Linked DNA regions of Homo sapiens. The protein of the gene in region 4 interacts with the protein of the main gene of each other region in a biochemical or structural test. Each region holds a gene or a part of one and is shown on either strand. Other genes may lie near its edges. The genes, in order: KDM5C, MECP2, DNTTIP2, H3C15, EHMT2, SETDB1 and PADI4.

Evidence for each region.
Region 1: the proteins of H3C15 (region 4) and KDM5C form a complex in vitro, tested with the Homo sapiens proteins (3 studies listed by BioGRID, with this or other methods).
Region 2: the proteins of H3C15 (region 4) and MECP2 form a complex in vitro, tested with the Homo sapiens proteins (one study listed by BioGRID).
Region 3: the proteins of H3C15 (region 4) and DNTTIP2 form a complex in vitro, tested with the Homo sapiens proteins (one study listed by BioGRID).
Region 5: of the proteins of H3C15 (region 4) and EHMT2, one has a biochemical effect on the other in vitro, tested with the Homo sapiens proteins (one study listed by BioGRID).
Region 6: the proteins of H3C15 (region 4) and SETDB1 form a complex in vitro, tested with the Homo sapiens proteins (one study listed by BioGRID).
Region 7: of the proteins of H3C15 (region 4) and PADI4, one has a biochemical effect on the other in vitro, tested with the Homo sapiens proteins (one study listed by BioGRID).

What each region holds. Positions count from the first base shown.
Region 1 is NC_000023.11:53,211,708-53,215,207, forward strand, and holds part of KDM5C (lysine-specific demethylase 5C), read right to left. Parts: intron 3,141-3,500; coding exon 2,982-3,140; intron 200-2,981; coding exon 80-199; intron 1-79. UniProt on the Homo sapiens protein: Histone demethylase that specifically demethylates 'Lys-4' of histone H3, thereby playing a central role in histone code. Does not demethylate histone H3 'Lys-9', H3 'Lys-27', H3 'Lys-36', H3 'Lys-79' or H4 'Lys-20'.
Region 2 is NC_000023.11:154,087,718-154,091,217, reverse strand, and holds part of MECP2 (methyl-CpG-binding protein 2), read left to right. Parts: intron 1-3,500. UniProt on the Homo sapiens protein: Chromosomal protein that binds to methylated DNA. It can bind specifically to a single methyl-CpG pair. It is not influenced by sequences flanking the methyl-CpGs.
Region 3 is NC_000001.11:93,872,707-93,876,206, reverse strand, and holds part of DNTTIP2 (deoxynucleotidyltransferase terminal-interacting protein 2), read left to right. Parts: intron 1-423; coding exon 424-562; intron 563-2,992; coding exon 2,993-3,088; intron 3,089-3,500. UniProt on the Homo sapiens protein: Regulates the transcriptional activity of DNTT and ESR1. May function as a chromatin remodeling protein. Part of the small subunit (SSU) processome, first precursor of the small eukaryotic ribosomal subunit.
Region 4 is NC_000001.11:149,851,108-149,853,625, forward strand, and holds H3C15 (histone H3.2), read left to right. Parts: upstream 1-1,500; 5' UTR 1,501-1,547; coding exon 1,548-1,958; 3' UTR 1,959-2,018; downstream 2,019-2,518. Other genes in the region: H2AC19 (histone H2A type 2-A), read left to right, coding at 7-399. UniProt on the Homo sapiens protein: Core component of nucleosome. Nucleosomes wrap and compact DNA into chromatin, limiting DNA accessibility to the cellular machineries which require DNA as a template.
Region 5 is NC_000006.12:31,880,699-31,884,198, reverse strand, and holds part of EHMT2 (histone-lysine N-methyltransferase EHMT2), read left to right. Parts: exon of another isoform or gene 1-248; coding exon 249-393; exon of another isoform or gene 394-759; coding exon 760-837; exon of another isoform or gene 838-1,189; coding exon 1,190-1,305; exon of another isoform or gene 1,306-1,413; coding exon 1,414-1,500; exon of another isoform or gene 1,501-1,526; intron 1,527-2,638; exon of another isoform or gene 2,639-2,803; intron 2,804-3,077; exon of another isoform or gene 3,078-3,106; coding exon 3,107-3,185; intron 3,186-3,350; coding exon 3,351-3,500. UniProt on the Homo sapiens protein: Histone methyltransferase that specifically mono- and dimethylates 'Lys-9' of histone H3 (H3K9me1 and H3K9me2, respectively) in euchromatin.
Region 6 is NC_000001.11:150,929,363-150,932,862, forward strand, and holds part of SETDB1 (histone-lysine N-methyltransferase SETDB1), read left to right. Parts: intron 1-604; coding exon 605-756; intron 757-3,500. UniProt on the Homo sapiens protein: Histone methyltransferase that specifically trimethylates 'Lys-9' of histone H3. H3 'Lys-9' trimethylation represents a specific tag for epigenetic transcriptional repression by recruiting HP1 (CBX1, CBX3 and/or CBX5) proteins to methylated histones.
Region 7 is NC_000001.11:17,362,351-17,364,504, reverse strand, and holds the end of PADI4 (protein-arginine deiminase type-4), read right to left. Parts: intron 984-2,154; coding exon 750-983; 3' UTR 501-749; downstream 1-500. UniProt on the Homo sapiens protein: Catalyzes the citrullination/deimination of arginine residues of proteins such as histones, thereby playing a key role in histone code and regulation of stem cell maintenance.

The DNA.
Region 1 (3,500 bases), on a different chromosome or scaffold from region 4:
TGATCCAGGTGAGCTGAGACCATCTGGCATCAATACCTATGATCCTAGCCCAACACTACCTCAGCCCTCCATCACCTACATGCACGGGCATGTTGAAGTAGTCAGCTTTAAAGGAGTCGGCCATCTCGCCAAAGCTCTGCAGAGTGTATTCCCGGGTAGCCTGCTCAAAGCCAAAGGCTTCTGGGGGCCGCTTACACTCCTGAAACCCAAAGGAGAACATGTCACCAAAACAGAGGCAAAGAGGTGAAGAATCCTCCCAAGTGGAACTGGAATATAAGGGGTAGGGAGGGAGAAGAGCCCTAGGTCTGCACTCAAGGCCCCTGAGGCAGGCCTTACTTTACAGCTGTACCTTTTGCTCTTACCACTTCGGCTTAGTCTTTTCATTCCCCATCATGCTTTTGCTCAGTTCCTCCCTACTGAAATGTCCTTTTCCACTTTCTTTCATTGGTTCCTCAAAACTCAATTCCAGTCTCACAACTTCCAGGGAGTCATCTCATGCTCTTTTCTTCCTTTAGGACTTTATCTAAATGGCTCTGACTTTAATATGCTATCCTGTGTTCTTCTGCCACCATTTTTCCTCTCTAGCTAAAATGTGATTCTTTTTTTTTTTTTTTTTGAGACGGAGTCTTGCTCTGTCACCCAGACTGGAGTGCAGGGTCACAATCTCAACTCACTGCAACCTCCGCCTCCCAGGTTCAAGCGATTCTCCTGCCTCAGCTTCCCGAGTAGCTGGGATTACAGGTGCCCGCCACCACGCCCAGCTAATTTTTGTATTTTTAGTAGAGATGGGGTTTCACCATGTTGGCCAGGCTGGTCTCAAACTCCTGACCCTGTGATCCGCCCGCCTTGGCCTCCCAAGTGCTGGGATTACAGGCGTGAGCCACCACGCCTGGCCTCTAAAATGTGGTTCTATGCAGGGTGCTTAGAGAAGGTTTTTTATGCCCAGACTAGAACTGTAAGGCTGGGAAAATGGCATTGAATATTCCAGTACCTTGAAAGATGGAAAACAGGGCCGGGCATGGTGGCTCATGCCTGTAAACCCAGCACTTTGGGAGGCTGAGGTGGGGTGGATCACCTGAGGTCAGGAGTTCGAGACCAGCCTGGCCACCATGGTGAAACCCTGTCTCTACTAGAACTACAAAAACTAGCCAGGTGTGGTGGCAGGCGCCTGTAATCCCAGCTACTCAGGAGGCTGAGGCAGGAGAATCGCTTGAACCCGGGAGGCAGAGGTTGCAGTGAGCAGAGATGGCATCACTGCACTCCAGCCTGGGTGACAGAGCAAGATTCTGTCGCAAGAAAAGAAAAAGAAAAAAGAAAGATGGAAAATGAAGACACTGGCTTTTACAGTATCAAACCCTCCACTAATCCTGTTCTTGAGACTGTCTCAGAAGATAGGATGTGGGTCTACCTCATTTTGTACCTATGTTCATTATTTTAGATGAGAACAATATGTACCCCAAAATCAGACACACACCATGCTTATGTTTGAAAAATAAATGTCCGTCTGGTCCACTGACTTATAACCACTTAGAGAAGAGAGTCAAGTAGAGTCGACAGTCTTGATACTGTTGGTATCCAAACTCCTCCCCAACTAGAATCTCCACCACTACCAAGGCCAATATGCACTGCCCTGATTTTTCCTCATCTGTGTATGTCTGTCTGTGTGTATGTATGCATGTGCACACCCGGTCTCTACAACCACAGTTGAGTCCCTAAGATAAGGCGAATGTCTGCTCTACAGAAATCCAGAGGGAAATGTAGAAGGTAAGTACCGAGAATTTGGGTGAAGGTAGGAAGTTCATGAAATGTACCTGCCCAACTTCCTGGCTGCTTGGCCCTTACTGCTGCTTCAGCTGCTCTCCTTACTGCCCCTATACCCATAGTAGGCATGCTCTCCTGCTATACCTCTGTTCCTGCTAGTCCTCCACCTCCCAGTCCTGAACAGCCAACCACCTCTCTAGTTAAAGCCTGTAGCACTGCCTCAATCTAAATATAACAAGAGGAAAACAACTAAATAAATATTATACCCATGATACACCATCTAAAAAAATTCCAGACCTTAATTAAACTTAGTAATATAGAGAAATGGTTATAAAGCAACAAATGAAAATATATAACAAGATCTCAAACTTGTTAAAGATAGTTACATATAAGTAACAGCAAAAAGATGAGAAAAAAATATATCAAACTATTAACAATGGTTATCACTGGGTGGTGGGAACACAAGTAATTTGCCTATTTTCCAAAATGTCTTTTTTTTTTTTGAAGACAGGGTCTCATTTTGTTGCCCAGGCTGGAGTGCAGTGGCATGATTTTGGCACACTGCAACCTCCGCCTCCTGGGCTCAAGCGATCCTCCCACCTCAGCCTCCCGAGCAGCTGGGACAACAGGCGTGCGCCACCATGCCTGGCTAATTTTTGTATCTTTTTTGGTAGAGACGGGGTTTCGCCATGTTGCCCAGGCTGGTCTCAAACTTCTGGGCTCAAACGATCCGCCCACCTCAGCCTCCCAAAGTGCTAGGATTACAGGCGTGAGCCACCGCGCCCGGCCTCAAACTTTCTAAAAAAGAAAAAAAAAAACAAAACAAAAACTCAGAAATTGAAAGAACATTTTTTTCTTAATATTCCTATCCTTCAAGTCTCATTTCTGACATTTTCCCTGATTATTACCCTTAGCTATTTTCCTCTCCTCTGAACTTCTATATCTCAGAGTTTCTAACACACAATTTAGCCTCTGTTTATATGTCACCACATATAGTCTAATTATGATGCTTACCTCTCCAGGTGGTCTGGGAGCTCTTAGAGGACAGAAGCAAAGGCTGAATCTCCTGCTCCTTTCTCCCAAAGCTCTGCCCAGCCTAATCCCACCACAGAGACCCAAAACCTAAGACTATGGCTGAGCTAAGAGGCTGCCCTCAATAAGGCCAGATGAAGGAAGGCAAGGAAGCCCTATGAGGCAGATGTGGAGTGGGGAGGCCTTACCGCCATGACACACTTTGGGCACCGCCAGACACCCTTGGGGATCTCAGGCAGAGGAGGCAGCAGGCAGAAGATGTGGTAGTTGTCATCACAGCCATCACACAGCAGGAGCTTGTCATCCTCATCCCCTCGAGAACACATCCGGCAGACATATGACTCAATCTGCCAGGGGAGAAGAGCAAAAGTTCTCCATTGGAAATCCACTGTGTTTGCTGGCTGAATGATTTACAGCCCTGTATAGGCTAGTCATGCTAGGTCTGGAGCTCAACTGCACGTATGTACCATCTCCCCAAATAAGCAGGTAGAGCTGCAAGAGCAGTCTTTTATCATCCAGTCTTGAATCCTCCCATTTTTATTCATCCAATAAACACTTACTAAACCCGTATTCAGAACTACGCTGGACTCTAGCACAAAGACAAGACATGGTATCCTTCCAAGTATATACAGTACTCTAGAGACATGTGTTCATAAAAATTAAAAATTGCCAATAGCGGTCCATAAAGGGCACTGTGGGAGCCTAGA
Region 2 (3,500 bases), on a different chromosome or scaffold from region 4:
ACTGAGACCCTAAGTCGTTCTTTGTTGTCTCTCTAGTGGTTTCTGACACCTCAGTGTGAAGCTGTTGTAGACATCCATAAGAAATAGCCTGCTTAGGGATTATGTGAGGGCAAGGTTTGGCTGAAGGAGAATAGAAGGTGTGGAAGGAAGCGGAAGACCAGAAGAGCATCACACTGCCTCAAGTCCCAAATTTGATTCTGCTCCTGATCCTGTGACTCAAATTGTCATTCTCTTTTACTGCTGTGGGGTGTGCTCTGGGCCCAGCTGACAGGACATTCTTTGTACTCCACGTATTTATGCTGGTGGGAGTTGTATGGCTAGTGCTTTGTGCTTTGTCTCAGAAATTGTGTGGACTAAATGTAATATGGGCAGTGAATGGGTTTCTTCTGGAAGATGTTAGGCCTGGAGGGTGGTTTGGGTTTTTACGAGTCTTTTTCTCAGATTACAGATTACGAATGGATGTTATAAAACAGGCAGTGTTGACACCATACAGTTTCTCCTAAGAAATGTACAGAGAGTTCAACCTGAGGAAGCTAATTGAAAATAAACTTTTAAAAAGAAATGTAGAAAGAGGAAATTTAAAAAGTATCTTATGAATGGGAAAGATGTAGCCATTTGAGCTTCAAAGAACTTTTGAGGGAATTCTCAAAGGACAGTACCCGTCTTTAGTAGATAAATGCTTGATATCTATTTTTCTTCTTTTACTTTTTAAAGAATTACTAAAATAATACATGGATTTATAGAAAAATCAAACCACTTAAAAATTGATCAGGTGGCTGGGCAAGGTGGCTCATGCCTGTAATCACAGCGCTTTGGGAGGCCTAGGCGGGTGGATCACCTGAAGTCAGGAGTTCGAGACCAGCCTGGCTAACACGGCGAAACCCCATCTCTATTAAAAATACAAAAATTAGCTGGCCATGGTGGCTTGAGCGTGTAGTCCCAGCTACTCGGAAGGCTGAGGCAGGAGAATCACTTGAACCTGGGAGGCGGAGGTTGCAGTGAGCCAAGATCACACCACTGAACTCCTGCCTGGGTGACAGAGTGAGACTCGGTCTCAAAAAAAAAAAAAAAAAAAAGTATCAGGTAAAAAAATGAAAGCTCCCCGCTTAATCTCTGCTCCCACTACCCAGAATAACTGCTGTTAATAGCTTAATGTAGATCCTTCTAAGTCTTCTAAGACTAAACTGTGTACTTTTTGTGTTGTAATTAACAGGAGGGTTTTTGTTTTGTTTTGTTTTTTCTTTTTTTGAGATGGAGTCTTGCTCTGTCATCCAGGCTGGAGTACAGTGGCACAATCTTGGCTCACTGCAACCTCCACCTCCTGGGTTCAAGTGATTCTCCTGCCTCAGCCTCCTGAGTAGCTGGGATTACAGGCGCCTGCCACCACACCCAGCTAATTTTTGTATTTTTAGTAGAGATGGGTTTCACCATGTTGGCCAGGCTGGTGTCGAACTCCTGACCTCAGGCGATCCACCTGCCTTGGCCTCCCAAAGTGCTGGGATTACAGGCGTGAGCCACCGTGCCTGGCCTCAGGATGGTGTTATATATACATATTCTGCATTTTTCCATCTCATATATTCATCTCTGCCTCATTTCTTTTAAATAGCAGTGTAGTCCAGGGCTGACTTACCGTCATGCATTTCGTTGTCTCTCTATGTTATTAAAAATGCTACAGGATTGAAATTCCTCATGTGCCAGTCATTTTGAAGAATGGCTGCCTAGACTTGGAATTTCTGGTGGATACCACCACATCACTGTCCAAAATGGCTATCCCAGTTCCCACAACAGTCTGAGAAAGTGCCATTTTCCCATATCGTCCCAGAATTGGATATACATCTTTTAAATTGGTGCCGCTTGGATTATTACTGAGGCTAAACCTCAATAATCATTGTCATAGCTCTTAATGTATTAAAGATGTTAACTCTTTGTCATGCAGATATTTTCCTGTTTTGTCTTACGTCTTGATTCTTGTCTTTCTGATATATAAAATTTATGTTATGATTTATTCTTTTGCTTTCATACTTAGGAAATCCTTTTTTACTCTTTTTTTTTTTTTTTTTTTTTTTTTTGAGACGGAGTCTCGCTCTGTCGCCCAGGTTGGAGTGCAATGGCGTGATCTTGGCTCACTGCAAGCTCCATCTCCCGGGTTCATTCCATTCTCCTGCCTCAGCCTCCCGAGTAGCTGGGACTACAGGCGCCCGCCACCACGCCTGGCTAATTTTTTTGTATTTGTGAGACAGGGTTTCACCATGTTAGCCAGGCTGGTCTCGATCTCCTGACCTTGTGATCCGCCCGTCTCTGCCTCCCAAAGTGCTGGGATTACAGGCGTGAGCCACCGCGCCCCGCCAGGAAATCCTTTCCTACTCTTAACAACAGATCAATAGTCATCTATATTTTCTTCCTAAAAAACCTGATGATGTATTATATTCATACATACGTATTTAATACATACAAAAGGGCCAGATGCGGTGGCTCATGCCTGTAATCCCAGCACTTTGGGAGGCTGAGGCGGGTGGATCACCTGAGGTCAAGAGTTCAAGACCAGCCTGGCCAAGATGGTGAAATCCCGTCTCTACTAAAAATACAAAAATTAGCCAGGCGTGGTGGCGGGCACCTGTAATCTCAACTACTGGGGTGACTGAGGCAGGAGAATCGCTTGAACCCAGGAGGCAGAAGTTTCGGTGAGCCAAGATCACGCCACTGCACTCCTGCCTGGGCGATAGAGTGAGGCTCTGTCTCAAAAATAAAAAATAAAAATAATAATTTTATAGTTAAGTTGCCCTGTGTTTTTCCTGTGATTAAAAAAAAAAATACCTGTTTTGTATTTAACTTTGGGGTGGGATAAGGTATAGCCCACTTAGTCAGTTGTGTCTAAGCCACTTGATGAACCAGTCAATCCAGTCTTCACCTTTAACAAATGCTGATTTCTTCAAGTGAGCAAAATATCTCTTAAACTTTTTCCTATTTTCTCTATAAAGTTGCTTTTTTCTGAATTTTTTCTTTATGAGGCTTGATGGGCAGCCCTATCAGCAGACAATCATTCATTCACCCAACAAATATTTGAGTATCTGCTTCAAGCCAGGGGCAGTGCTAAGCCCTGGAAGTGGTATCTTCTCCTTATCCGGGAGTGGGGCTACAGTGTTCATTCCAGAAGACTCAAGAAAATAGCAGATCATCACAAAAGTAGGTTTTACATAAATGAGGAGGAATCCACAGGGTTGTGTATATGTGTGTGTATTTTAAATTCTGACATAAGTTGGAGCTTTAGGGTAGACTGTGACATAAGAGTAGTTTGTTTTCCAACTCATGTAATTGCCGGCTGATTTTTGTCTTGAATTATGATAATGGTAACTTCTGTTGAAACAATTCTGTATTCATCTTAGCTTGGTTGGGATGCAATAAAAGTTTTGTACTGGTAAAAATGATAATTTTCTTCCATGATGATTTTGAAGCTTTTCTGTAACACCTGATAAAAATAGAGGGGCCAGGCATGGTGGCTC
Region 3 (3,500 bases), about 56 Mb from region 4:
ATAAAAATATGAAATGTTAGCCTGGGGAATGAGAAAATCACTGCCTTGGGTTCTTCATGGAATGGCTCATTCATTTGACATTATGGAGCCAGGTGTTGGGTGTGCACCTGTAGTCCCAGCCACCCAGGGAGGTTGAGGTAGGAGGATCACTTGAGTCCCAAGAGTTCAAGGCTGCAGTGGTCACTACTGCACTCCATCCTGGGCCAACAGTGAGACCCTGTCTCAAAAAATAAAATAAAATGATGAAAAATATATTTATTTAGAGTTTTTTTTCAGGAATTCCTCATAAAAATAAGATGCTTTTTTTTCTTTATTGTGGACAATACAAGGGAAGAGAAGAATAAGTGATTTTTTAAAATGCCATCTTATATGTTTCCATTTTGATTTAATTACTTGATCTTTAAGTGATGATTTCTTTTTCAGTCTGAAGTTGACAAGCAGCAGCATAGACCCTGGTCTGAGTATCAAGCAGTTGGGTGGTTTGTATATTAATTTTAATGCAGATAAACTACAGTCTAACAAGAGAACCCTAACACAGATCAAGGAGAAAAAGAAAAATGAGGTAAGTTAATTGTGCTGTTAGGTTTTCACAGAACTAACCAATCACTTTTAGAAATTAGTCCTTGGTAAAAGACTTAATTTTCCTACAGTGAAACCACATTGGCCTAATGTGTTAGTTTTTTCCTTCTCTCTAAAACAGTCATTTCTTTTTACAATAAAATCCTATCTATGAATGATAATGCTTTAAAAATAAATCAATACAGGGTCAGTGTTCCTCATCTTACACCCACCAATTATGATCCCAGGGGTTTTGTTTTTTTCCCTTTTCTTGCTATACTTTTAGTTCTTAAGTTCTTAACTAGTGTAGACTGTTGAGAATCTGAAAGCTGTGAATGCCTGCCTGCCTCTTCCACCCGGAAAAAAATGCACATGTGCATATAGACATTTTACATATAATTTCAGAAGGAATTACTGTTAAGGTAACTTTACCCAAACCCTTAGCTTTAGCCAACACCTTGCACTGTTTTCTCCTAAATCTATATTTTCTAGCCTTGATGCTTCTCACTGTCACTTTCAGACCTTTAAATCCAAGTACCTATTTGTTCATTTAGATGTCCTCAGGTACTTGACGTCACTAATTCCCCTTTCCCTGCCTGAACCAGGAATCCTCTTCTTGTATTCTTTTTTCTGGCTAATGAAACCAAACTCTCTTTTCCTTTTGTAGTCAGTCACCAAGCCTCTAGGGGAAGATATTTCTCTGCTTCCTCCTTTTCAAGCGACTGTCACCAGCTAGTGCAGGCCTTTGCTTCTCATCTGGACTACTCCAGTGGCTTCCTTATTGATCTTGTTTTCATCTTGTTCTTCAAGCCATCCTCCACACTTCTAGATTTCTCTGTCTAAAAACACAAATCCGGCTGGGCAAGGTAGCTCACATCTATAATCCCAGCACTTTGGGAGGCTGAGGCAGGAGAATTGTTTAAGCCCAGGAGTTTGAGACCAACCTGGGCAACATAGCTAGACCACATCTCTCCTCCCTGCCCCAAAAAACACACCACACACACAGATGTGACAGTATTCTCTTGAATCCTTCAAAGTACCTCTCTACCCCACCCAGCTGTCATCTGCTCTATTCTTGCCACTGAAGACTACTGTAGTTGCCTGAACTTACCCTGCTTTTCCCCAAGCAAGTGCAAAATAATTGATCGTTGCCCTTGGGGAATATTTTACCTCCAGTCCTTCTCACAACCCCTCTGTTTCCATAACATCTAGCATAGATCTGATTCATTGTTGATCATGTGATATATTAACTTACCATCTTTTCTTTATATTCCTAAAACAGGGTTTTTCAGTCTCAGCACTACTGATGTTTTGGGCTGCATAATTTTGTTGTGAGATGTTCCGTGCATAGTAGGATGTTTAACAGCATCCCTATCTTTTGCCCACTAGATGTCAGTAGCATTCTTCCTTATCCTCACCACCACCAAAAATGTCTCCAGACATTGCCAGATGCTCCCAGTTGAGAACCACTGTCCTTGAATGTACTACAGTACTTGACTCACAGCAAACTCTTAATCATTTGTTAAGTAAATATCATGCCCCCTTTTATGAGTGATAGGAAAGCCTAGACGGCTACCTATACCACACAGAAACATCTAGGCCTGAACCTGAATTGTGTGCCTGACTGTTAATTTCTGAGTTGATCATTTCAAATGTCAGTCCCAAATTAATGCTTGTACTATATTCCTGTAAACTATTTTGAGGGCTACAGAGCAGTCTTACTTGGTTCTTGTACTGAGAAAAATACTAATTAACCTGAGGTTCCTTTAGTCACACAGAGTTTTAGGAGAATATAATCATCCTAGTCAAGTAACAAAAGTACAGAAATCATTTAGGAAAAGATAAACAGATTTGACTGCACAAATTTATTTATTTATTTTGGAGAAATGGCGTTTTCTTATGTTACCCAGGCTAGTCTTGAACTCCTGGCCTCAAGTGATTGTCCTGCCTTGGCCTCCTAAAGAGTTGGGATTATAGGCATGAGCCATCGTGCCTGGCCTTTTTTTTCTTTTTTCTTTTTTTTTTTGGGAGGGAGCTGGGTTTGGGGGGAGACAGGGTCTCACTCTGTCACCCAGGCTGGAGTGAGTGGCACAGTCATAGCTTGCTGCAGCCTCAAGCTCCTGGCCTCAAGTGATCCTTCTGCCTTAGCGTCCTGAGTAGCTGGGACTACAGGTGTGTGCCACCATGCCCAACTAATTTCTTTTCTTTTTTTTTTTTTTTTTACAGTCAGGGTCTTGCTATGTTGACCAAGGTGGTCTAAAACTCCTGGCCTCAAGTGATCCTCCTCCCTTGGCCTCCTCAAAGCACTAGGATTATAGGTGTGAGCCACTTTGCCAGGCTGACTAAAAATTTTAAAACTTACAGAAGTTTAAACTGTTGAAAAACTTATATAACATTCTGACATTATTTTAAAACCAATTTTATGTTTTTATAGCTTCTGCAGAAAGCCGTCATTACACCTGATTTTGAAAAAAACCACTGTGTTCCACCATATAGTGAATCAAAGTATCAACTTCAGAAAAAACGCAGAGTAAGTACAGTGACTTAATTAAAATGCTTAGATATGTTTGGCTATATATTTTCAGCTTATACAACATAACTGCACAATTAAACTGTATCTGTTGGTCTATATATGAGTCCAAAGAAAATAATTACAGATTTCTAAGGGCTGTAAAATATAGTACCATAAACACATTATGTATAGATTTTCACATCTTTGCAGCCACAATAGTGCATCTATAAGTAGAGGTTTTTTAAAAAAATATATATATATATAGATTACTTCTATCTGCCATTTCGACTAGTTATCCAGAGAGCTTGAAGGAAAGTTGAGGATGGTATTCTAGTAATGTTACTGTAATATGGAGCACCCTGGCACATGGTAGGCACTAACTAAATACTTGTTGTATGAATGAAACAAAATTAAATAACTTGTAGGAGTT
Region 4 (2,518 bases):
GCTGTCATGTCTGGTCGTGGCAAGCAAGGAGGCAAGGCCCGCGCCAAGGCCAAGTCGCGCTCGTCCCGCGCTGGCCTTCAGTTCCCGGTAGGGCGAGTGCATCGCTTGCTGCGCAAAGGCAACTACGCGGAGCGAGTGGGGGCCGGCGCGCCCGTCTACATGGCTGCGGTCCTCGAGTATCTGACCGCCGAGATCCTGGAGCTGGCGGGCAACGCGGCTCGGGACAACAAGAAGACGCGCATCATCCCTCGTCACCTCCAGCTGGCCATCCGCAACGACGAGGAACTGAACAAGCTGCTGGGCAAAGTCACCATCGCCCAGGGCGGCGTCTTGCCTAACATCCAGGCCGTACTGCTCCCTAAGAAGACGGAGAGTCACCACAAGGCAAAGGGCAAGTGAGGCTGACGTCCGGCCCAAGTGGGCCCAGCCCGGCCCGCGTCTCGAAGGGGCACCTGTGAACTCAAAAGGCTCTTTTCAGAGCCACCCACGTTTTCAAATAAAAGAGTTGTTAATGCTGGCCACTCTCAGTCCAGCGTTCCTCAGTAGTGAATAGCGAACCTGGAGCTGACGGGACGGGACGGGACGGGACGGGACGGGACGGGGCGGGGCGGGGCGGGGTGTGTGTGTGTGCGCGCCGTCTTCCATCTGGAGCACGTAACTGCCTTGGCTCTTCGATGAGTGGGTCCCCAGTCCTAGGACTTCCCAGGGCAGGTGCAGGCACCAAACGTCCTGGGCGCCGCCACGGTCCGCTCCACACAGTCACAAACACCAGCGCCGCGGGCAGTACCCAACGCGCTGAAGTGTTGCGCGCGGAGCGCGCGCTTCCCTAGTGGTTTCCGCAGGCTATGGCCGGACACTTAGACCTAGTCTGGCACCAGCGGGACGTGCTCCTCGTCCCCACCCCCGATGGGGAGGGCCCTGAGCGGGTAGTGCTCGCTAGTGTGGCGGAGCTGGGTCTTGGCTTCACTGAGCTGACTTAAGTCTTAGTTTCTGTTTTGTTTTCCAAAGCGCCCTGGCGGCGGAGAGTAAGGGCCTCGGAGGCGGAATCTTGCGTCCTGGGGGCGGGCACCTCTCCCACCCAAAAGGCACCCGACAGGCGAAAAACGATCCGCCAAGTAGCAACTGGGGGCGGGGGGCAAATGGAAGAATGAGGTTCCACGCGGGAGCTGTAGGGCGCAGCAAGAAAGGGGGGGTATTGCGGGCAGTGTGTTCTAAGGAAGCGAAGGGCGGAAAGGGAACAATCTGACAAAGCTGCAATGGAAAATGACTTTCACCCTGAAGGAAAGGGGAAAAACAAGCTTGCGAAACTTCGCCAACTGGTAAGTAGAAAGTGAGGCGGGGTGGGCGGGATTAGGGAGGAATCTGCCCAAGCCAACCGGTGACTTTAGGACGGGTGACGTCACAGCCAATGGACAGCCAGCGCGGGATTTTCAATTATTGTTCCGCCCAATCGGGAAAAGACTGTGCTTATAAAGACGGCTGCGGCGGGGCTAGGAGCTCGTTTTTCTCCCCGCCGCTGCGCTGGTAAGCCTGTGTTTTGGTTCGCTATGGCCCGTACTAAGCAGACTGCTCGCAAGTCGACCGGCGGCAAGGCCCCGAGGAAGCAGCTGGCCACCAAGGCGGCCCGCAAGAGCGCGCCGGCCACGGGCGGGGTGAAGAAGCCGCACCGCTACCGGCCCGGCACCGTAGCCCTGCGGGAGATCCGGCGCTACCAGAAGTCCACGGAGCTGCTGATCCGCAAGCTGCCCTTCCAGCGGCTGGTACGCGAGATCGCGCAGGACTTTAAGACGGACCTGCGCTTCCAGAGCTCGGCCGTGATGGCGCTGCAGGAGGCCAGCGAGGCCTACCTGGTGGGGCTGTTCGAAGACACGAACCTGTGCGCCATCCACGCCAAGCGCGTGACCATTATGCCCAAGGACATCCAGCTGGCCCGCCGCATCCGTGGAGAGCGGGCTTAAGAAGTGGCGGTTCGGCCGGAGGTTCCATCGTATCCAAAAGGCTCTTTTCAGAGCCACCCACATCAGCACTTGGAAGAAGCTGTACCGCTTGCCCTCCGTGCTCCTCCGGCATTAGAGCGGGGAAGGCACTTCCGCTTAGGCTCCCAACAAAACGGGGTCGGGTCCCCCTGCTGCGGTGCCGTCTTGAGCTTTGCCGACTTCGGCCAATTGGCCTATCCGCACTGGCCGGGCTGCGGACGCTTTCCTGGGCGCCGGCTCGCGGGCTTTGGCGGTCCGGCTCCCCCCGCGCGTGACCGGGGCCCTGCGTGGCGGGGGGGCCGGGGCAGGAGAGACGGGGCGTCGGGCACGAGGCCAGGGGTCACTAGGGGGACGCTCAGGGCTCGCGGTCCTGAGCGCGGCTGGCCTTTGCGGAAGTGGAGCGCCACACGCCCGTGCTTCGCGCCCAAACCGGCCTCACCCGGCGCGGCCATCCGGCTAGGGAGGGAAATGACCACCTCGGCCTCGCCGGGGTTCTGCGGACAAACGTGGGGAGAACTGCGCTGGGGCTGCCGTTCAGTCCC
Region 5 (3,500 bases), on a different chromosome or scaffold from region 4:
TGGAATTTCAGATGCACAGATGCATACTTTTTTAGTGTGAGAATGTCCTGTGTAATTTTTGGGACATACTAAAAAGCTATTTCTTGTTTATCTAAAATTCTATGTTAACTCGCTGTCCTGCATCTTACCTGGCAACCTTACTCCCCTGCCCCCAGCCCCAGGAACCTCCCCAACTCTCTTCCTTATACCTGGAGTAGCTCCTCACCCCCTTTTCCAGCTTCCCAGCCCCTTCTTCCCGTCTTCTGCAGGGACGTGGCTCGGGGCTATGAGAACGTGCCCATTCCCTGTGTCAACGGTGTGGATGGGGAGCCCTGCCCTGAGGATTACAAGTACATCTCAGAGAACTGCGAGACGTCCACCATGAACATCGATCGCAACATCACCCACCTGCAGGTGAGTAGGGGGCCCGGGGCCTCCCCAAAAGGACACCGAGAGCTGCCAAGTACAGTTGGACAAGCTTCAAACCAGCAAAGGCACCTGGCCAAGGAAGGGTTGGCTGAAAGGGAGCCCTGGTGTGGGGTCGCATCCCCACCAGGGGAGGGATCCTTTTCCTAGGTCACAGCAAGGTATCATATGAGCTCCCAGTAGCCCTGGGGACACCACCATACTGATTACCCGTCACCCTAGGACCATCACCACCCACTGTTGTAACACATGGACCCCAAAGAAAGGACAGTGGTTAGGGGGTCAGGGGGCATCAAGAGTAGAGGGGCCCAGACCGATCATGGGGTTGAGCTGACCTCTGCCTCCTCGCCCCAGCACTGCACGTGTGTGGACGACTGCTCTAGCTCCAACTGCCTGTGCGGCCAGCTCAGCATCCGGTGCTGGTATGACAAGGTGCGTGCCCCTTGCCTTGGCCACAGACACCCGGCCCCTCCTTCAGAGGAGCCAGCCTCCAATAAACCAGCTCCCTGGGACCATGTCCCTCACCTCCTACCCTGTGGGGGAAGTGACTGAGAGGACTGGGCAAGGCCTGGGAATCCTGGGATGTGGCTGGGACAGCGATGGGCGTGTGCCCAGGTCTATGCAAACCAGGGATGATGCTCCTGCATTTCGTGCTCTCGGATCTCAGAGCCTGTGTGACCTCCCCAACCCCAACTTCCCTGTCTCTGTAGAGTCTTGGGGTTCCTGGGTGGGCAGCTGAGGTGGGCCCCACAGAGAAACCACTATCCTCCCCTCCGCACCCTAGGATGGGCGATTGCTCCAGGAATTTAACAAGATTGAGCCTCCGCTGATTTTCGAGTGTAACCAGGCGTGCTCATGCTGGAGAAACTGCAAGAACCGGGTCGTACAGAGTGGCATCAAGTGAGGCCCTGCTCCACAGCCCACCCTCTCCCCACCTCACCCTTTCCTCCCTGCCCCTGGGGCTTTTCCAGGGCCTCCACCCAACAGCGCCATCTCTCCTACCCCCAGGGTGCGGCTACAGCTCTACCGAACAGCCAAGATGGGCTGGGGGGTCCGCGCCCTGCAGACCATCCCACAGGGGACCTTCATCTGCGAGTAAGTCACCGGGAGCACCTTAACACCTGGTGGGAAGGGGATACATGGCCACTGCTGACTGCCAGGCCTCCCTCTCAGCCATCTGCCCTGATGAGTCACATGTCTCCATCTGGCCACTCTCCAGCCAGCCTCCTCTGACCCCTATTCCTGCAGCTGAGCAGCCAGCCGCCTCTGACCCCCATCCCCCCAGCTGAGAATGGCACCTGCCTCCACTCTGCCCAGACCACAGAGCTTGTCTTCCCTCCCCTCCACCTCCACCCTCTACCTTCCCCTCCACCCCCTCCTCGCCCTTCCTAGCTGGAGAAAGTGCCAGTTTGGGAGACAAACAGACTTGGGTTTGAGCCCCTCTCTGCTTCTGGATGTTCTTGGCCAAGTTACTTAACCTCTTTGAGCCTTATTTTTCTTGTCTGTAGAGTGGAGGTGATAACAGCTACCTATCTGTCCACCTCCTCAGGGGCCTGTCCCTCTCCATCAGTTCTTTCTCTGCCCAGCATCTGTAATCTCCCCCTTTCTCTTGGCTGCCATCCCACAACCCTCAATCTTACTTTAGTCTCCTTTGGCTCTTTTTTTTTTTTTTTTTTAATTTATTTTTTGAGACGGAGTTTCACTCTTGTTGCCCAAGCTGGAGTGCAATGGCACAATCTTGGCTCACTGCAGTCTCCACCTCCCAGGTTCAAGCGATTCTCCTGCCTCAGCCTCCCAAGTAGCTGGGATTACAGGTGCGCACCACCACACCCGGCTAATTTTTTGTATTTTTAGTAGAAACGGAGTTTCACCATGTTAGCCAGGCTGGTCTCCAACTCCTGACCTCAGATGATCCGCCCACCTCGGCCTCCCAAAGTGCTGGGATTACAGGCGTGAGCCACCGTGCCTGACCATTCTTTGGCCTTTAAAAAAGATAGTCCTCTAACCATACTTGCCTGTTCAACAGACCATCCAGTTTCTTTCCATCATGTCATCTCTCAACTTCTCTGGCAAGCAGCCCCTTCCTGCTGGGCCTCAGTTTCCCCACCATCCACTCACTGCCTGTCCCTGCCAAAATCGGCCTTTGCCCTTCCCACTCTGCTGAAGCTGTCTCTTGACAGTCACTTCCCACCCACGTCCTCTCCGTGTGTCTGAATCTCCCATGTCTGCTCACCCTCCTTAGATAGCTGGCTCCTCTCCTCCCTCTGGTGTCCAGATATGTGTGGGTGCTCTTGCCCCGAATCATGCCTTGAGTTCCTTGCCACTCCTGTACCTCTGGCTCTTCCTGCAGTCCTGGCCCCTCTCCTGTTCCATATCGCCCATTCCTGCCGGGTGGCTCCTGGAACACAAACCTCTCTGTGTCCAAACCCGAACTTCCCCACCCAGGCCAACTGCCCCTACACATTAATCCCCTTAACCACAGAGCTTGTTGTCTGTCTCTGTGCTGACTGAAGGCTTCCTCTGTCAAGGCTGGAATGCTGCCCTTTCACTTGCCCACCACTGCTGCTCCAGGCCTTCCCTTCCCCACACCTGCCAGCCCTGCCCATTCCAGATTCCACAGGCTTGTGAAGAGAGATGGGGCCTGGAGCCACCTCCTAATAGCCCACACTCACCTTCAGAACCATGGATTCCTGTCCCACAGGTATGTCGGGGAGCTGATCTCTGATGCTGAGGCTGATGTGAGAGAGGATGATTCTTACCTCTTCGACTTAGACAACAAGGTGAGCAGGAGACCCTCCTTACCCTGCTGCTCCCCAGGGCTGGCTTTCAGGAGCCTCTGGGAAGTCAGCAAATGGAAACCTGGGGAGGAGGGACTGGGGAGTCAGTGGGTGGGGAGGGCAAGCAGGGTCGGGGGAGATGTGAAGAGTGCCATCCCCCTGCCCCAGGATGGAGAGGTGTACTGCATAGATGCCCGTTACTATGGCAACATCAGCCGCTTCATCAACCACCTGTGTGACCCCAACATCATTCCCGTCCGGGTCTTCATGCTGCACCAAGACCTGCGATTTCCACGCATCGCCTTCTTCAGTTCCCGA
Region 6 (3,500 bases), 1.1 Mb from region 4:
TATTTTATTTTTATTTTATTTTATTTTTTTTTTAGACAGAGACTTGCTCTGTCTCACCCAGGCTGGAGTACAGTGACGTGATCTCGGCTCACTGCAGCCTCCGCCTCCCGAGTTCAAGCAGCTCTCCTGTCTCAGCCTCCGGAGTAGCTGGGACGACAAGCGTGTGCCACCACACCCGGCTAATTTTTGTATTTTTAGTAGAGATGGAGTTTTACCATGTCGGCCAGGCTGGGGAGGTCAAATTCCTGACCTCAAGTGATCTACCTGCCTCAGCCTCCCAAATTGCTGGGATTGCAGGTGTGAGCCACCACTGCCAGCCAGGATACATTTTCAGATAACAGCAAGGTAAATAATGAGGTAAGGGTGAAAGTACTGTACTTTGGGCTTACTTTGGATTTTTGAGGAACTAGTCTGGAAACTAAACCACTATTTAAAACATTTTTCTATAGAAAAAGCATTCTAAATTCTAAACAGAGACACTTTGGAATGTGGCCCATTTAAATTGAGGACTGTCTATACTTAAATATATATACATCGTAATGGATTCTATATCTCTTAATTCCTCTACTGGCTTTGACCTTTTCTGCATGTGTTCCAATATTAGGGCAGTGACTAATTGTGAGTCTTTGGTGAAGGACTTCTACTCCAAGCTGGGACTACAATACCGGGACAGTAGCTCTGAGGACGAATCTTCCCGGCCTACAGAAATAATTGAGATTCCTGATGAAGATGATGATGTCCTCAGTATTGATTCAGGTAAGGGATGAGCTTTGGATAGGAGAGTCTCAGGACTGAAGTTGAAACACTGGAAGATGAGCAAATAGAAGATAATAGAAGAGAGGAGAAACCATTGTCACTAACTCCATATTTCTAACTGCCTGAGTTGGCTATTAAAGAAAAAAATGCAACATTGTTAGTATCATAGATGTTCCCTATGTGCTACACCCTGATTGTATTACTTTGCTTTCCTCATTCTGTGTAACCCCTATTTTGGGGTATTCCATCAAAGAGTGGAATTGCCAGGACTTATAGTGAGTGTATGTTCTGTTATTAGAATATAAAAAATACAGTTGGTTTTTGTGTATTGATCTTGTAGCCCGCAACCGCATTAAACTCACATAGTTCTAGAAGCTTTTTGTTGATTCCTTAGGATTTTCTTTTTTTTTTTTTTTTTTTTTTTTTTTGAGATGGAGTCTCGCTCTGTTGCCCAGGCTGGAGTGCAGTGGCGCAATCTCAGCTCACTGCAACCTCTGCCTCCTGGGTTCAAGCAATTCTCTGCTTCGACCTCCCAACTAGCTGGGATTACAGGCAAACCCCCTGCCCCACCACCACACCCAGCTAATTTTTGTATTTTTAGTAGAGACAGGGTTTCATCATCTTGGCCAGGCTGGTCTTGAACTCCTGACCTTGTGATCCACTTGCCTTGGCCTCCCAAAGTGCTGGGATTACAGGCATGAGCTGCTGCACCCAGCCAATTCCTTAGGTTTTTCTAAAACTAATTCATGCAAGTAAAGTCTGTTTTACTTCTTCCTTTCTACCCTGGATATCTTTCTTTTTCTTTTCTTATTGTACTCACTAAAACCTTCAGTACAGTGTTGAATAAGTTTTAAGAGCAGGCCAGATACAGTGGCTCATACCTGTAATCCCAGCACTTTGGGAGGTTGAGGTGGGAGGATCCCCTGATCCCAGGAATTTGAGACCAGCCTGGCCAACGTAGCAAGACCTCATCTCTACTAAAAATAAAAAAATTAGCCAGGCATGGTGGTGCACCCCAGTAATCCCAGCTACTTGGGAGGCTGAGGTGGAAGGATCTCTTAAGCATAGGAAGTTGAGGCTGCAGTGAGCTGTGATTGTGCCACTGCACTCCAGCCTGGGTGACAAAGCAAGACTCTTGTCTTCAAAAAAAAAAAAAAAAAAAAGGGTTTCCAGAACAGACATCCTGGCCAGGCGTGGTGGCTCACGCCTGTAATCCCAGCACTTTGGGAGGCCAAGGAGGGCGGATCATGAGGTCAGGAGATCCAGACCATCCTGGCTAACACGGTGAAACCCCATCTCTACTAAAAATACAAAAAATTAGCTGGGCGTGGCGGCGGACGCCTGTAGTCCCAGCTACTTGGGAGGCTGAGGCAGGAGAATGGCGTGAACCCAGGAGGTGGAGCTTGCAGTGAACAGAAACCACACTACTACATGTATACATATGTAACTAACCTGCACAATGTGCACATGTACCCTAAAACTTAAAGTATAATAAAAAAAAATTAAAAAATAAAAAATAAAAAAAATAAAGATAAACCAAAAAAAAAAAAAAAGAAACCACACTACTGCACTCCAGCCTGGGCGACAGAGTGAGACTCTGTCTCACCCAAAAAAAAAAAAAAAAAAAACAGACATCCTTTTCTTCTTCCTGATGTTGATATGAAAGCATTTGGTGTTTAACCATTAATTATGTTAGCAGTAGGTTTTCTATAGATGTCATTTATTAAATTAAAGGAATCCCCTTCTAATCCTAGTTTGAGAGATTTTATCATAGCCTAATTGGATTTTGGATTTTGTCAGCTTTTTCTGTATCATTCTCCTATGTTCCTTTTGTCTTTTATCATATTAAGAATGTATTACAGTAGTTGTTTTTTTAGATGTTAAACCAACCTTGCATTCCTGGAGTAAACCAGCCTTGGTCTTGATGTATAATTCTTTTTATATGTTGCTGGATTGGATTTGCTGATTTAAAAAAAAAAGATCTTGGCTGGATGCTGTGACTCATGCCTGAAATCCCAGCACCTTGGGAGGCCGAGTTGGGCAGATTGCTTGAGCCCAGGAGTTCAAGACTAGCCTGGGCAACATGGTGAAACCCCTTCTCTAATTTTTTTTTTTTTAAAAAAAAAGAAAGAAAAAAATTTTTACATCTGTTTCATGAGGGCTATTGGTTTATAGTTCTGTTGTGGTGTCCTTGTTTGGCTTTGGTAGCAGGGTAATATAGGCCTTGTAAATGAGTTGAGAAGTGTTCCCTCCTCTGAGTTTGTATGGAATGATATTTCTTCCTAAAAAGTTTGATAAATTCAGTGCTGAGGCCATTTAGGCTTGGACTTTTCTTTGTGGATTTTTAAAATCTTTTATTTTGGAATAATTTTAGATTTATAGAAAAATTGAAAAAGTAATAGAGTTCCTATATATCCCTCATCTAGTACATATGTCAAAACTAAGAAGCAAACACTGGTATATTACTTTTATATAAACTTCAGGCTTTATTCAGCTTCTGGACTTTTTCTGTTCCATGATCTAATCCAGGATATCACATTAAATATATTTCCAGTGTGATGTTTATTTTCTTCCTTTTACTTACTGGGTTTGATTTGTTCTTCTTTTTCTAGCCTCTCAAAGTGGAAGCTTACAGGATTGATTTTAGACCTTTCTTCCTTTCTAATATAAGCTCTAAAGCTATTTATTTCCCCGTAAGCATTGCTTTGCTGCATCTCATAAATTTTTTTCCATACAGTGTCACT
Region 7 (2,154 bases), about 130 Mb from region 4:
TAACAGGATCCCTGGGTGTTCTCTGAATATCTTGGACCCTTTTGAGCCAATATCTGGTCTCAATTTTAATGATCTCAAGCCATCAAGTTTTATTTTCTACAGAGGAATCTGAGTCTTTATGTCGAAGCCATAAAAGGCAATATAAAAAAGAACACCGAGGAGATGAATTACTTCATTCCACAAAAATCCATCGCTATCAGTACGTAGGTGAATGCCCAGTTGTAGGTGAGTTTAAAGAGGGATATGCCCAGATTCTCAGCGGGGCTTACCCCTCCCCTGCTCCCTCCTCCTCCTCTTCTTGGAAAGGTCCCGTGGGAAACTCAGAACGAACTAGGATCATGCAAAATTTTATAGCCCAAATACATGTCTGGGAGCAAAAGACACACACAATAACGTGGCCTTCAGTGCAGCCTGTTAACACTTTTCAGTTTGTTTTGTGATAGTCAATTCAACCATGACAAATGAGTGAATGAATGAATGATACCAACAACATCTTGACCTCATGTACAAAGTGACTTAAAAAAACTTTATTGCAGCTTCTTAGAGCAGAACTGAGTGTGCAGTGCTAGGACCATGTTGGGATCTTCAGAGTGGGAAACTGGGACATCACAGGAGAAGAAAGCAAGCCACTGCTGGGAGGGCTGGCCGCCCCCAGGGAGCCACAATATTCACAAGAGCTCTTGCTTGCCACACTGCAGAGGACCCAGCGACATCTGGCCAGGAGGGAGAGGACGCCAGGGAAGATGGGCTCAGGGCACCATGTTCCACCACTTGAAGGAGAAGGGCTTTCTGCGCACGTTGGTGCCGCAGTGCACCTCCCCATGCCTGATGTGGTAGGTGAAGAAGTCGTTGATGAAGGTGCACTGGAGGCCCAGTGGCTCCAGCAGGGAACACACCTTCTCCTCCAGGCAGCAGCGGCCGTTGATGACGGGCCCGAAGGGCTTGGGGATGCCCAGGTGCTTCCCTAGCACCAGCATGTTCACCTGCAGGGAAGTGAGGGTTCAGGTCACAGGCAGCAGCGGGCAGCCTGCAGCGCAATCTGAGCGGCCCCACCCTTCTCTGACCTTTGGAAATAATAGCCCCTCCAGGGGTGGTGGCTCAGACCTGTAGTCCCAGCACTTTGGGAGGCTGAGGCAGGAGGATCGCTTGAGCCCAAGAGTTTGAGACCAGCCTGGGCAACATGGTGAGACCCCATCTCTAAAAAAAGTATTTTTAAAAATTAGCTTGGCATGGTGGTGCGTGCCTGTGGTCCCAGCTACTTTGGAGGCTGAGGGAGGAGGATCACTTGAGCCCAGGAGGTCAAGGCTGCAGTGAGCTGTGATTGTGCCACTGCACTCCAGCCTGGCAGCTTGGGCGACAGAGCGAGACTCTACCTCAAAAATAAAAATTGCTGGGTGTGGTGGCTCATGCCTGTAATCCCAGCACTTTGGGAGGCCTAGGCGAGTGGATCACCTGAGGTCAGGAGCTCGAGACCAGCTTGGCCAACATGGGGAAACCCCGTCTCTACTAAAAATACAAGAATGAGCCAGGTGTGCCTGTAATCCCAGCTACTTGGGAGGCTGAGGCAGGAGAATTGCTTGAACCCAGGAAGTGGAGGTTTCAGTGAGCCGAGATCATTCCAATACACTCCAGCCTGGGTGACAGAGCGAGACTCTGTCTCAAAAATTAAAACAAAATAAAAATAATAGCCCCACTTTACAAATGAGAAAACTGAGACCCAGACGTGGAAAATTGTTTGCCTAAGGCCACCCAGCTATACTTGGACTACAGCTATTAGACTCCAAGTTCCATACTCTTATTTATTTTAAATTTAAAAATTTAGATTTGGGGGTACATATGCATATTTATTACATGGGTATATTGATTACTGGTGGGCACTGGGCTTCTAGTGTATCCATTACCCAAACAATGAACATCGTACCCGATAGGTAATTTTCCAGCCCTCACCTCGCTCTCATTCTCTCCATTTTGGGGGTCCTCAGTGCCTATTATTTCCATCTCTGTGTCTATGTGTATCCACTGTTTAGCTTCTACCTATACGTGAGAACATGCAGTATTTGATTTTCTGTTTTAGTTCACTTAGGATAATGCCTCCAGCTCCATCAGGTTGCTGCAAAGGACATTATTTAATTTTTTTTTTTTTTTTTTTTTTTG